Linked DNA regions of Homo sapiens: regions 1, 2 and 3 are each linked to region 4. Evidence: fine-mapped expression QTL. A gene starts in region 4. Each other region holds a variant in brackets. All regions are shown on one strand. Distances are from middle to middle.

Region 1 (2,605 bases), 51 kb before region 4:
AATCAGCCAAGCTGGCCTAGACACCTGGGCCATGGCATGGACCAACGGGGCCACATTTGGCTCGGGGCAAATTGATATGGCCTCCAGTCAGGTTGGCTGAAGTTGAAACCCACAGGTTCTTGGCCTGTGAGGGGAAGGAGCTTAGAGAGCATGTCCACCAGCTCTTCCCCAATGATGGACATGAATAAGGACTGAAGCTCAGTGTTGGGGGTGCACTGCTTCAGACCTAGGGCCAGTTAATGGCAGAGGTGGGGCACGAGTCTGCTGTGGGACTCTGAGGGGGACTGTCAGGCACATGATTCACTCGGGTATATGACGGCTGACTGGAACCTATTGGTGGCAGGAAAACAATCTTCAATCTCTTTCAGCACATGGTCTCTGCCTCTTGGGATCTGGGTACACTAAGCAAATAGGACCATTTCTCCACGTCTTCATGAGTGGCCAGTTTGGGCAGCTCCACTCATGACAGATGAGGACACAGGGCCTCATCTCACACCAAGAGTCCTGCCCCACCAAGAGGATGCAGCTTCTGGCATCTCACTCAGGACCCGATTCCCAGGGAAACCAGGCCTTTCTTATCAGCAAAACGCTGCCCATGTTGCAAACTGACATGTTAGACCTCCTCTCCACACCAACACCCCCAGCCAATGGAATGGGAGGTTAAGATCAGGTACCTACTCTGTGGAGACATTGACAATGGTGGTCCGAGCAAAGTGACTGCTCCAGTCTGAAAGAGAAAGAAGTTGCTGACCTCGAGCCTGGCTCCTCAGTTGCTGGGGGCGCCAGAATTCAAGGTTCCTGGACAAATGCGTGGGGTCTGGAGATGCTTGCCTTTGACCTCCTCTTCCTTCTGGTTCCCCAGAGCTTCTCCCCAACTTTTAACAAAGACATCAGAGGCCTCTTTTCCCTGGCACTGCTGACTGGGGCTCTCGGGAGGAAAGCGAGAACACTTCTTTGTGTGGTATCTCCAGGGCATAATTGGCACATAATGGACACCCAGTGAATGCTTGTTGGAGGCACCAGCCATCCAGCCACGAGCAGAATGATGAAATTAGCAACACTATTACCACTGGCAACGTCCAGAAAAGGCAACACTGCCTCATTCAGAGGAAATCCTTCTGGCTATGTGCATTAGTTTGACGGTTCAGACACCCCCTTATAAAATGTGTCTAAAAATCCTGCATGATATTATCACTGCCAACATACCAGCTCTTGGGATGAGACAAGACTCAGATATTACTC[T/C]AGTAGTGGCATTTGGTGGCATGGACACTCAGTGTGCTAAACTGAATTAATTAAGGTCTACCTCTGGCCAAGGATGAACAGGTAGAAACCTGAGGAATCAGGGGAAAGCTGGTTGCCCCTGGGGCATTTACGGTGCTATTCTGCACCACCCAGTTGTACAGTCTTCATACAGCTCCATTCAGCTTCATGATTCTAAATGAAATACTAGCTGCTATTCATTGAGCACCTACTATGTATATCAAACACTGTATAGGTATGTGGCATGTGATCTCCCAATCCCTAAGACAGTTGAGGAAAGTAAAGCTCGGGAGACTGATTTGCCATATACAAGGTTAAATCACATGTTAGTGGCCAGGTGCGGTGGCTCATGCCTGTAATCTCAGCATTTTAGGAGGCCAAGGCGGGCGGATCACTGGAGGTAAGGAGTTTGAGACCAGCCTGGCCAACATGGTGAAAACCCGTCTCTACTAAAAATACAAAAATTAGCCGGGTGTGGAGGCGGGTGCCTGTAATCCCAGCTACTCAGGAGGCTGAGGCAGGAGAATCACTTGAACCCAGGAGGCAGAGGTTGCAGTGAGCTGAGATCGCGCCATTGCACTCCAGCCTGGGCAACAATAGCAAAACTCTGTCTCAATAAATTAAATAAATAAATAAATAAAATATAAAATAAAATAACATATTAGCTAGGCAAAGGTATTTTCTGGGGAGCAGGTGTGGGTAAACATTGTGGAGCCATGATTTTTCTGTTTTAGAAGCCAAGGTCTCATCCACAATGCTGTTCCCTCCAAAGGGCTCACCCTGTTCCAATGAGTGGGAGTAGAGGTCCTACAAGACAAATTCTGCACCTATGGTGTTATGTCCAACAGAGTGGGTTCAGGGATCTTTGCAGTGGGTCACATGTCACAAAAGGGTCTCCAGGAACGCCCAGCCAGAGTGGGGCCATGAATGAACACTCAGTTCCAAACTGAATTAATACTATGTGCCTGCTGTGTGTCAGGCTCTGGGCCAAACCTGTGACAAAGGAGGAATCGTCTCCAGTCTCCACATGAGAGAAGCGAAGCATGGTTTGTTCAAGTTCACACAACAACAAACTCCCAGAGGCAGGATTAAAATAGATGTCTAGACCCTCAACCCCAGCCCTGACTGGCTTGCCTGGCTGCCTCTCAGGTCCAGCTGCTGCCCCAGGGCCAGCTGAGCTTTGCCTACCCAGAACAGATCCAGTATAGTTGATGGGCAAAATGATGCCCAGGGAGGGGATACAGATGATGAGCACAAAGATGATGAGGTGGTACTGGAACACGATGTAGATGCGCGCGTCGTCCCCACACTTGTTAATCAGATCCTCGTCCCTGGAAGAGACACA
Region 2 (2,605 bases), 55 kb before region 4:
GGCTGGGGTGGAGGATCAGAGCTCCATGATTGGAAAGAGCTGCCAGAGCGACCCCACAGTGATTTCTGCTCTCCCTGTAGCTTCCACTGTTCCAGCGTAAAGCCTCACATCTCTAGGGAAATCCCTCACGTGAGACTGGGCCGGGGAGTTGGGAAGTAAACAAGACTCTGGGGAGAGGGTAGGGAAGCTTCCCTAAACTTCACACTTTATTCTGTGAATGGGAAATATCTTCCTGGGTCGTCACCTTTAAGATGACAGTCTGGTAATTGTGCTGCAAGAATCAGGGGTCTTGAAAGAGGCTTCTGGTGACAAGAAGGAAAGCTGAAGTAGCAGACACCAGACTGGTCAAGGGTGACCAAGCCTCCATGCCTGGCAGGCTGAAGCATTTGGGTTCACTTTTCAGGGAATGTGGATTTGCACTCTGGGGTGGGTTCAAGTGAATCAGTCCTTTTGAATGGACGGCCTGGAAGGAGCTGATTCCACACCACTGAACCTTTGAAAGGCTGAGGACGGGAACTAAGGATGCTCCTCACTCTTGCCCATCCCCAGCAGAGCATGGGTGCTGGTCCAGATGGGTGGCACTGCTGGTGCCTGCCCGTGGCCCCCCGTCAGTCATCTCTGCACACCAACACCTGCAGCATGCTTCAAATACTGCGACTGCTCTTTCCCGGCCTTGGGGCATGTTCAGCTTTTGTGCAGGGCCAAGTAGGGGAGGAGTTAAAGCCCCCAAGCGCAACCCTCAATGAACGGTGGACAGGGAGCTGGTGGAAAATACCCACGATTGCTCACCTCCAGGAAAATTCTGGGGCATGTGCTCTACACCAGCTCCCAGAGTTCCCTGGTCATGAAGCTCCACTTGCCCACAGGGGTAAGTTGCCCCTCCATGCTCCCTTTTTTTGGTTGCCTTTGCATCCTCACTCCCTTACTGGCCTTTCCTGGGATCACCTCCCATAAACAAGCGCTACTCATTCCAAGTCTCAGGGTCTGCTTGGATGGGGTCACCCAAACTGAGACGGTGGGGATACACGGGGGTCTCTGATCTCCGAGAGACTGCAGAAGGGCGAGGCACGGGCCTAGCAGGGGTGGGCAGGGCCAGGTACACTAAGTAGCAGCAGCTCAGCAGGGCCCAGACCACTTAGCATGGAGGCCCCCGCTGGTCCACTGGGCCTTGTTAATCCTTTAGTTTTCAGATGGTGGGAAGTCCAAGAGTCCCTGGGGAGGGGCGGGGCAGCAGAGGGGCAGGGATAGGAGGTACCTGGGCAGCAGCTATTTACCAACCAGTCTGAAAGTTTCATTAGGGGTGAGAGGATGGAGGGTGAGAGGGTGAGAGGGTGGAGGAGCGTGAGAGGGTGGAGCAGCGTGGAGGAGGGTGAGAGGGTGGAGGAGCGTGAGAGGGTGGAGCAGCGTGGAGGAGGGTGAGAGGGTG[G/A]AGAAGGGTGAGAGGTGGGGGCCAGGTGATTGTTACTAGGACTGAAGGGAGGAAGCTTGGCCCCTGCTCAGGTGAAACCGCCCCCTCCCATCTATCACAGTCTCCCTGGACCCTCTGAGGGCTTCTCTGAGGGTTGGAAGTGGTCAGCCCAGTGGGGAGGGACCCCAGCTTCCCACAGTGGGAAGCAGCTTTGTAGGCTACTTACCTTTTGGCTATTCCTGGGTGCAAACCCCAGGCAGTGATGAGCCATGAACATGAAGTTGGTGATGAAGTAGAAGAAGGACAGCAGGCTATGCAGCCACAGGAGCTTGCTCCTGCAGGGAGGGAGGCAGCAGCAGTGAGGTCAGCCTGTGAGCTCCCCAGAGCCCACTGCACAGAGACCCCTGGGCCTCCTCCTACCCTCAGTCTCCTGGGGCCCCCCAGCCCATCACAGTCTCCTCAGACCCCCACAACCATCCAAGTCTCCCCAGACCCCAACCCATTACAGTATCCCCCACCCCCACCCATCACAGTCTCCCTAGACTCCCCCTACCATCACAGTCTCCCCATACCCCCCCACCAGTCTGCCCATACCCCCCACCCACCACAGTCTGCCCATACCCCCACCCATCACAGTCTCCCCATACCCCCACCCATCACAGTCTCCCTATACCCCCCACCCACCAGTCTCCCCATACCCCCCACCCACCACAGTCTCCCCATACCCCCACCCATCACAGTCTCCCCATACCCCCATCCATTACAGACTCCCCATACCCCCCACCCACCACAGTCTCCCCAGACCCCCACCCATCACAGTCTCCCTAGACTCCCCCTACCATCACAGTCTCCCCATGCCCCCACCCATCGCAGTCTCCCCATACCCCCCACCCACCACAGTCTCCCCAGACCCCCACCCATCACAGTCTCCCTAGACTCCCCACCCATCACAGTCTCCCCAGACCCCCCCACCCATCACCATCTCCCCAGGCCACCACCCACCGCAGTCCCCCTGGACACCTCCCCCACCCATCACAGTCTCCTAGGGCTCCCTGCTCCCTCCCACCCATCACAGTCTCCCCATACCCCCCCACCCACCACAGTCTCCCCATACCCCCCACCCACCACAGTCTCCTCATACCCCCCACCCACCAGTCTTCCCATACCGCCCACCCATCACAGTCTCCCCATACCCCCACC
Region 3 (2,605 bases), 46 kb before region 4:
ACTTTGGGGGGCCAAGATGGGCAGATCACTTGAGATCAGGAGTTCAAGACCAGCCTGGCCAACGTGGTGAAGCCCTGTCTCTACTAAAAATATAAAAATTAGCCAGGCATGGTGGCACGTGCCTGTAATCCCAGCTACTTGGGAGGCTGAGGCAGGAAAATTGTTTGAACGTGGGAGGCGGAGGTTGCAGTGAGCTGAGATCGTACCACTGCCCTCCAGCCTGGGCGACAGAGTGAGACTCCGTCTTAAAAAAAAAAAAAAGATTTATTTTTAAACAATACTACAAAAGGCACACCTTCAAGGTTTTCAATGTTCTCATTTGAGGAATTATTTAGAGCTCTTGATTTTTTAACTTTGAGCGGCTAAACGTTTCCCTCCCTGGACTTGAGAATGAAATGCCAGAAGTGGAATGGATGAGAACTTCTGGAGAGCGGGGGAAGGTCCTCTTGCACTGCCTGAGGCGGGGTGAGGTCCAGGAGCCTCCAATCAGGTGGAGAGAGCAGAGGGCTGGACAGGACTGGATGGCACTGAGAGCACTAGAATTCTCTTCCTGGGCCAGGAATTCCTGCCTCCACCACTAGGCCTGTTTCCTTTCTCCATCTTTCTTGTAAGTGCCCCACCCTGACCTTCCAGCCAATCGCCCTTCTTCCTACTCACAATTAATTCTCTGTCTCTGCTCTCATTGCTTCCCTTCCTTCCACCTCTTTCTGAAGACGTGCTGGATCCATTGTTCTGCTCTCTCATCTTCGGCATCCTCCTCTCTCTGCATGCACCTGCGTCCACCCACACCTCTTCCCTGTAAACTACAACCAGGCTCAAGTGCTTGTTGGTTCCTCTGTAATAAAACAGCTCCTCAAGGATCCACTCTCTGATCTGTTCCCTGACCTGTTTTCCCTCCTCCTTCCAGTAGCTTCACTTCCCTCCTTCCATGCACCTCTGGAAAAAGGTGACCTTCCTTCTCTGCCTCTGTGTCTTGGACATCCTATCCTCGGCCTGCCCTCCCAACAGAGACCCAACTCACCAAAGTCAATGTCCTTTCCTCAACCCCCATTCTACTCCACCTCTGTAGCACTAGAGGTTTCTGGGTCGCCCCACCCTAGAGGGGAGCCTTGTCCTGGCCTGGCTTCACTGAGTCCAGCCCA[G/A]AGGATGCCTCTTCCTCCCGCCTCGATGAGGCACTCCCTTGGGCCGCTTCTGGTCTTACATCCTTGGATGACCCATCTGCTCCCATGACTTCAACTACAGCCTCCATGCACCATCTCCCAAGTTGAAATCTCTAACTCTGACCTTTCTCCTAGGCTTCAATCTTGTTTTTTCAACAGCTCCTTTGTCAGCTTGCATACTTGCCCTGACTACATCTCATCATTTTGTGTTTCCTCTCCCACCTAATGGCATTACTACCCTCCCCAGAAACCAGACCTCAATTTCTCCCTCTTTCTTAACTAGGCCACAACCTACTGACTGTAGCCTTATGATCTCCCTCCCATCTTCCCCTCCCATTGTTTCTCTAGTCACTGCCCCGGTTCAGGTCACTAGCACCTCCCACCTCGACCATTGGAATAGCCTCCTTAACTGCTCACCTTGACTTTGGACTTTCTCTAATGCCATTCACTCTCCATACTTCTGCCTACACACATATATTGTTCTGAGTTTCCAGCTTAAAAATACTAATTGGCTCTCTACTGTCTCTAGATGAAAGCCCAAGATTCTCAGTATGCCAGCCAAGGTCCCAGCTGAGGCCCAGTGCGGTGGCTCATGCCTGTAATCCCAGCACTTTAAGAGACTGAGGCAGGTGGATCACCTCAGGTCAGGAGTTTGAGGCCAGCCTGGCCAACATGGTGAAACCCCGTCTCTACTAAAAATACAAAAATTAGCTGGACATGGTGGCACGTGCCTCTAATCCCAGCTACTCGGGAGGCTGAGGCAGGAGAATTGCTTGAACCCAGGAGGCGGAGGTTGCAGTGAGCTGAGATTGTGCCACTGCACATCACCCTGGTGACAGAGAGATATTCTGTCTCAAAAAAAAAAAAAAAAAAATCCCAACTGATCCTTCCAGCCCAATCTTTTACCCTCCCCCGCCACACTTACCATGAAACCTTGCTTCTAGTCACACCAGATTTACCATGTCTGTGCACACCCTACTCATCTCTGCAACAAACTGGCTCACACGGTCCTTTACTTCTGATGTGCCCTCCACATCCCACATCGCGCCTGTCGAAACTCTTCCTGTCCTCCAATGCCCAGCTCAAAACTATACTTTTCCAGTTGGAATTAATTTCTCTCTTCCCCACATGCCGTCTGCACAGCAATTATAACCCTCCCATTCTGAATGCTACGAAGGGAGTCTTGTTCACCTTTGTTTCTCCAACCAGACCGCATGGGTTTGTGCACGGGGACGCTACTTGACTTATTGCTGCTCAGTAAACGCATTAAGCTGTCTTCTATGACACTGCTCTCAAGAGCTGCTGGATGCACGGTGCAATGCCCTGCCTTCCTGCTTTCCCAGATGCTGGGTCCCTGACAGAGGGGCCTCTGTGATAGGAGTCTTTGGGTAGGGGTGGGGTGGAGGGGTTTAAAGGATGGGCAGGACAGGACAGGTGGAGCACAC
Region 4 (2,605 bases):
GGAAAGTTCACTTCTAAGGGCAATAGACGGAATGTAGCCCATTTCTCCCAGGGACAGGGGCCGGAGAGAGAACAAGGATAAGGTGATAACAGAGGGTGGTGCTAAGAGATGGACCCTTTCTTGAGGGAAAACACATCTTCCTGGAGCGCTGCAGGCTGTTGAAGGAGAAAGTTCATCTCCTCATTCCCATCAGCACGGGCCTTCCTCTCCTCAAAGCCAACTCTCATTCTTTCCTTGAACCCACAAGAACAGCACACGCTCACACCCCCTCTGCTCACTTAGGTGTTTTTCATGAGCAATTTTCTCCTGTCCCCAGACAATCTAATTGCTGCTTACACCCATGATACCCTGGAGCCCCATGCGGAAGTTGCAACTCCCTGCATTCTCAGGGATGAGGAAATGGGGTGCTGGGGTGGGGGGAGGTCCTGGGGTCTAGAGAGGAAGAAGGGCCCCTGCCCCTCCAGAGGGCATTCGGTGAAGGCAGTGCCTGGGAGGCCAGCTCTGTAGGGCCTGCTCAGTGACCTTGGTCAAGCCACAGCACCCCTGGGCCTCAGTTTCCCCAGGGCCTTCATCCAAACACAACGTTCCTCTCTCAAGGCCAGGGCGAGTAGGGAGGCAAGAGCCTTTCTTTGGAAGCACATGGGGAAAGGGTGGCATTGTTCCCCTGGGGGCCCAGGAGCCCAGCCCGCCAGGCAGCAGCGCAGCAGTGACGTTGTCATAACCCATAACGGCGGAGCAGACTGCCCCCTCCCGTCCCAGCCCAGAGAGTGGGCGGCAGAGCCCCGGGGAATCCCTGGGTGGGGGAGAGGGTAGCCCCGAGCGGTAACTCCCACCTGGCTGTCAGGCAGGAGGCCGGGGACCCCCCAAGCAAACCTCCTACCCACCTCCGTTCCCCCAACCCAGTGAAGACCGGTCTACTAAAGCCACGCCCTCCCGGGTGGGCGGCTCAGGCCACCCTTTCCTGGGTACAAGCTAGAGACAGCCAGCGTGGCAAGGGACTGTGGCGCAGTCTCCCCTACCCCCATCCCTCCCAATGCAAGGTCTCAGAAAGCACAGAAACAAGCAATCCTTCCCCGCCCCCTCCCCGTGCGGGACCTGGATCCGGCGCCCCTTCTTCCCGGCCCGACCAGCCCCGGTCACCGCACCCGCATCGCGTGCTCACCACATTTGCGTCCTCAGCACCGCGGCCCCAGCCCCAGGCTCGGCGCTCAGGCCGCCAGGCTGCAGTGACAGGCTCCACGCTCCCCACCTGGGAGGAGACTGCCAGCGGGTCCTCCTCCTCGCCGGCTGGGCGAAGCCAGCCCCACCTGGCAAGGGACTGTCAGCAAATTCCTCTCTGCATCACTGTGAGAGAGGCATCCCGGCTCCTCCCAAGCAGGGGCCAACCTTGGCCCCGCCCCAAAGCTTCTCTGACCTGCCGGGGAACCCAGGCTGGCAGATCCTACGCGAAGACCCAGGCTCCGCCTCAGAGACCCTGTCGCTACCAGGAACCATCTGCAAATTACTATCTCAAACACACAAGGCTGCCGGTCCCTGGTTCCAGCTTGCTCCAGCTGCCCTGATGCATTGGGCCTTGGCAGCTCCTTTGCCACCTCCCCTCGCCCTCCCTGAGGCATGTCGCCTTTCCCAGTCTCCTTAGTCCCATCAGCCAGAAGCAAGAAAAGCCACTCCACTCCCACAAAGATAGCCCTCTGCCCCGCCCAAGGACCAGGTCCTGGCACCAGCCTAGTGGCTGGTACCCAGCTGCTACCCAGACTCCTTCTACAGCAAAGGAGTGATCTACAATTGGCCACAGCCCCACCAGGGAGGGCCAAGGGAGTGAGCTGGGTCATTTCCGGTTTGCGGTGGGCCACAATCCTGCAGGTATCAGAGTTTCATCAAAGTCCTGCCCACTCTGCTATAGACACTGGTTTTGACCCCGAGGACAGGTGCCAGTGTTTGCAACCCCCAAAGACCAGTGTGCAAAACAAGGGGCAGTAGTAAACAGCCTCTCCCTCCCAGGCAGGGGCCTAGGCACATTTATGTCATCGACATTATCTGGCACTTGCAGTACAATAGCTGATGGGAAAGAAGCCACTGCCCAATGCTCTCTGAAAGTGACTCCCTTTCACCAGTTAGGGCTGTTAACAATATGATAAGAATGCCATAGAGGAAGCCCTGTGAACACAAGGTCATGAGGTGCCAGAGGAGGGGGTCAAAGGCTGGTTATGCTTTCATGGGTTGATTTCCCCATAACCAGCAGCACAGCACCCCCTTCCACACAACCGTATCAGGCTGGCGCACTCTAGTCATCTCCCTCTTCCCCTGACCCCCTGGTTCTCATGACCCAACCACCCCACGAAGACCCAAGGGTGAGCCACATAGACAGACTCTGTCGAAGTCTATCCATTATCCACTCACTCGCCCAGGCTGGAGTGCAGTGGTGTGATCTCGGCTCACTGCAAGCTCCGCCTCCCAGGTTCACGCCATTCTCCTGCCTCAGCCTCCCGAGTAGCTGGGACTACAAGCTCCCGCCACCACGCCCGGATAATTTTTTTTTTTTGTATTTTTTAGTAGAGACGGGGTTTCACCGCGTTAGCCAGAATTGTCTCGATCTCCTGACCTC

Direction of the effects. Positions count from the first base shown, and alleles are read on the strand shown. Sizes are in standard deviations (SD) of each study's normalised expression. Not every link is listed here.
As copies of T replace C in region 1, the expression in prefrontal cortex of the gene that starts at base 1,262 in region 4 goes down (small effect, 0.21 SD a copy in GTEx).

Evidence for each region.
Region 1: its variant is fine-mapped to the expression of TMEM63C in prefrontal cortex (GTEx, PIP 0.94).
Region 2: its variant is fine-mapped to the expression of TMEM63C in whole blood (TOPMed, PIP 0.95).
Region 3: its variant is fine-mapped to the expression of TMEM63C in whole blood (INTERVAL, PIP 0.98).

Annotation. Positions count from the first base shown.
Region 1 is chr14:77,231,574-77,234,178 of GRCh38, reverse strand. TMEM63C (transmembrane protein 63C) reads right to left here. Exons shown (of 24, transcript NM_020431.4): 7 at 2,449-2,591; 8 at 679-727. Among named protein-coding and RNA genes, the nearest start is that of MIR1260A, 33 kb to the left of the region's middle. The variant T/C (reference allele first, on the strand shown) is at 1,243.
Region 2 is chr14:77,235,759-77,238,363 of GRCh38, reverse strand. It overlaps TMEM63C (transmembrane protein 63C), which reads right to left. Exons shown (of 24, transcript NM_020431.4): 9 at 1,632-1,740. Among named protein-coding and RNA genes, the nearest start is that of MIR1260A, 29 kb to the left of the region's middle. The variant G/A (reference allele first, on the strand shown) is at 1,427.
Region 3 is chr14:77,226,197-77,228,801 of GRCh38, reverse strand. The region is part of intron 6 of TMEM63C (transmembrane protein 63C); the gene reads right to left. Among named protein-coding and RNA genes, the nearest start is that of MIR1260A, 39 kb to the left of the region's middle. The variant G/A (reference allele first, on the strand shown) is at 1,143.
Region 4 is chr14:77,180,455-77,183,059 of GRCh38, reverse strand. TMEM63C (transmembrane protein 63C) reads right to left here and starts at 1,262. Exons shown (of 24, transcript NM_020431.4): 1 at 1,166-1,262. RefSeq lists an enhancer at 812-941.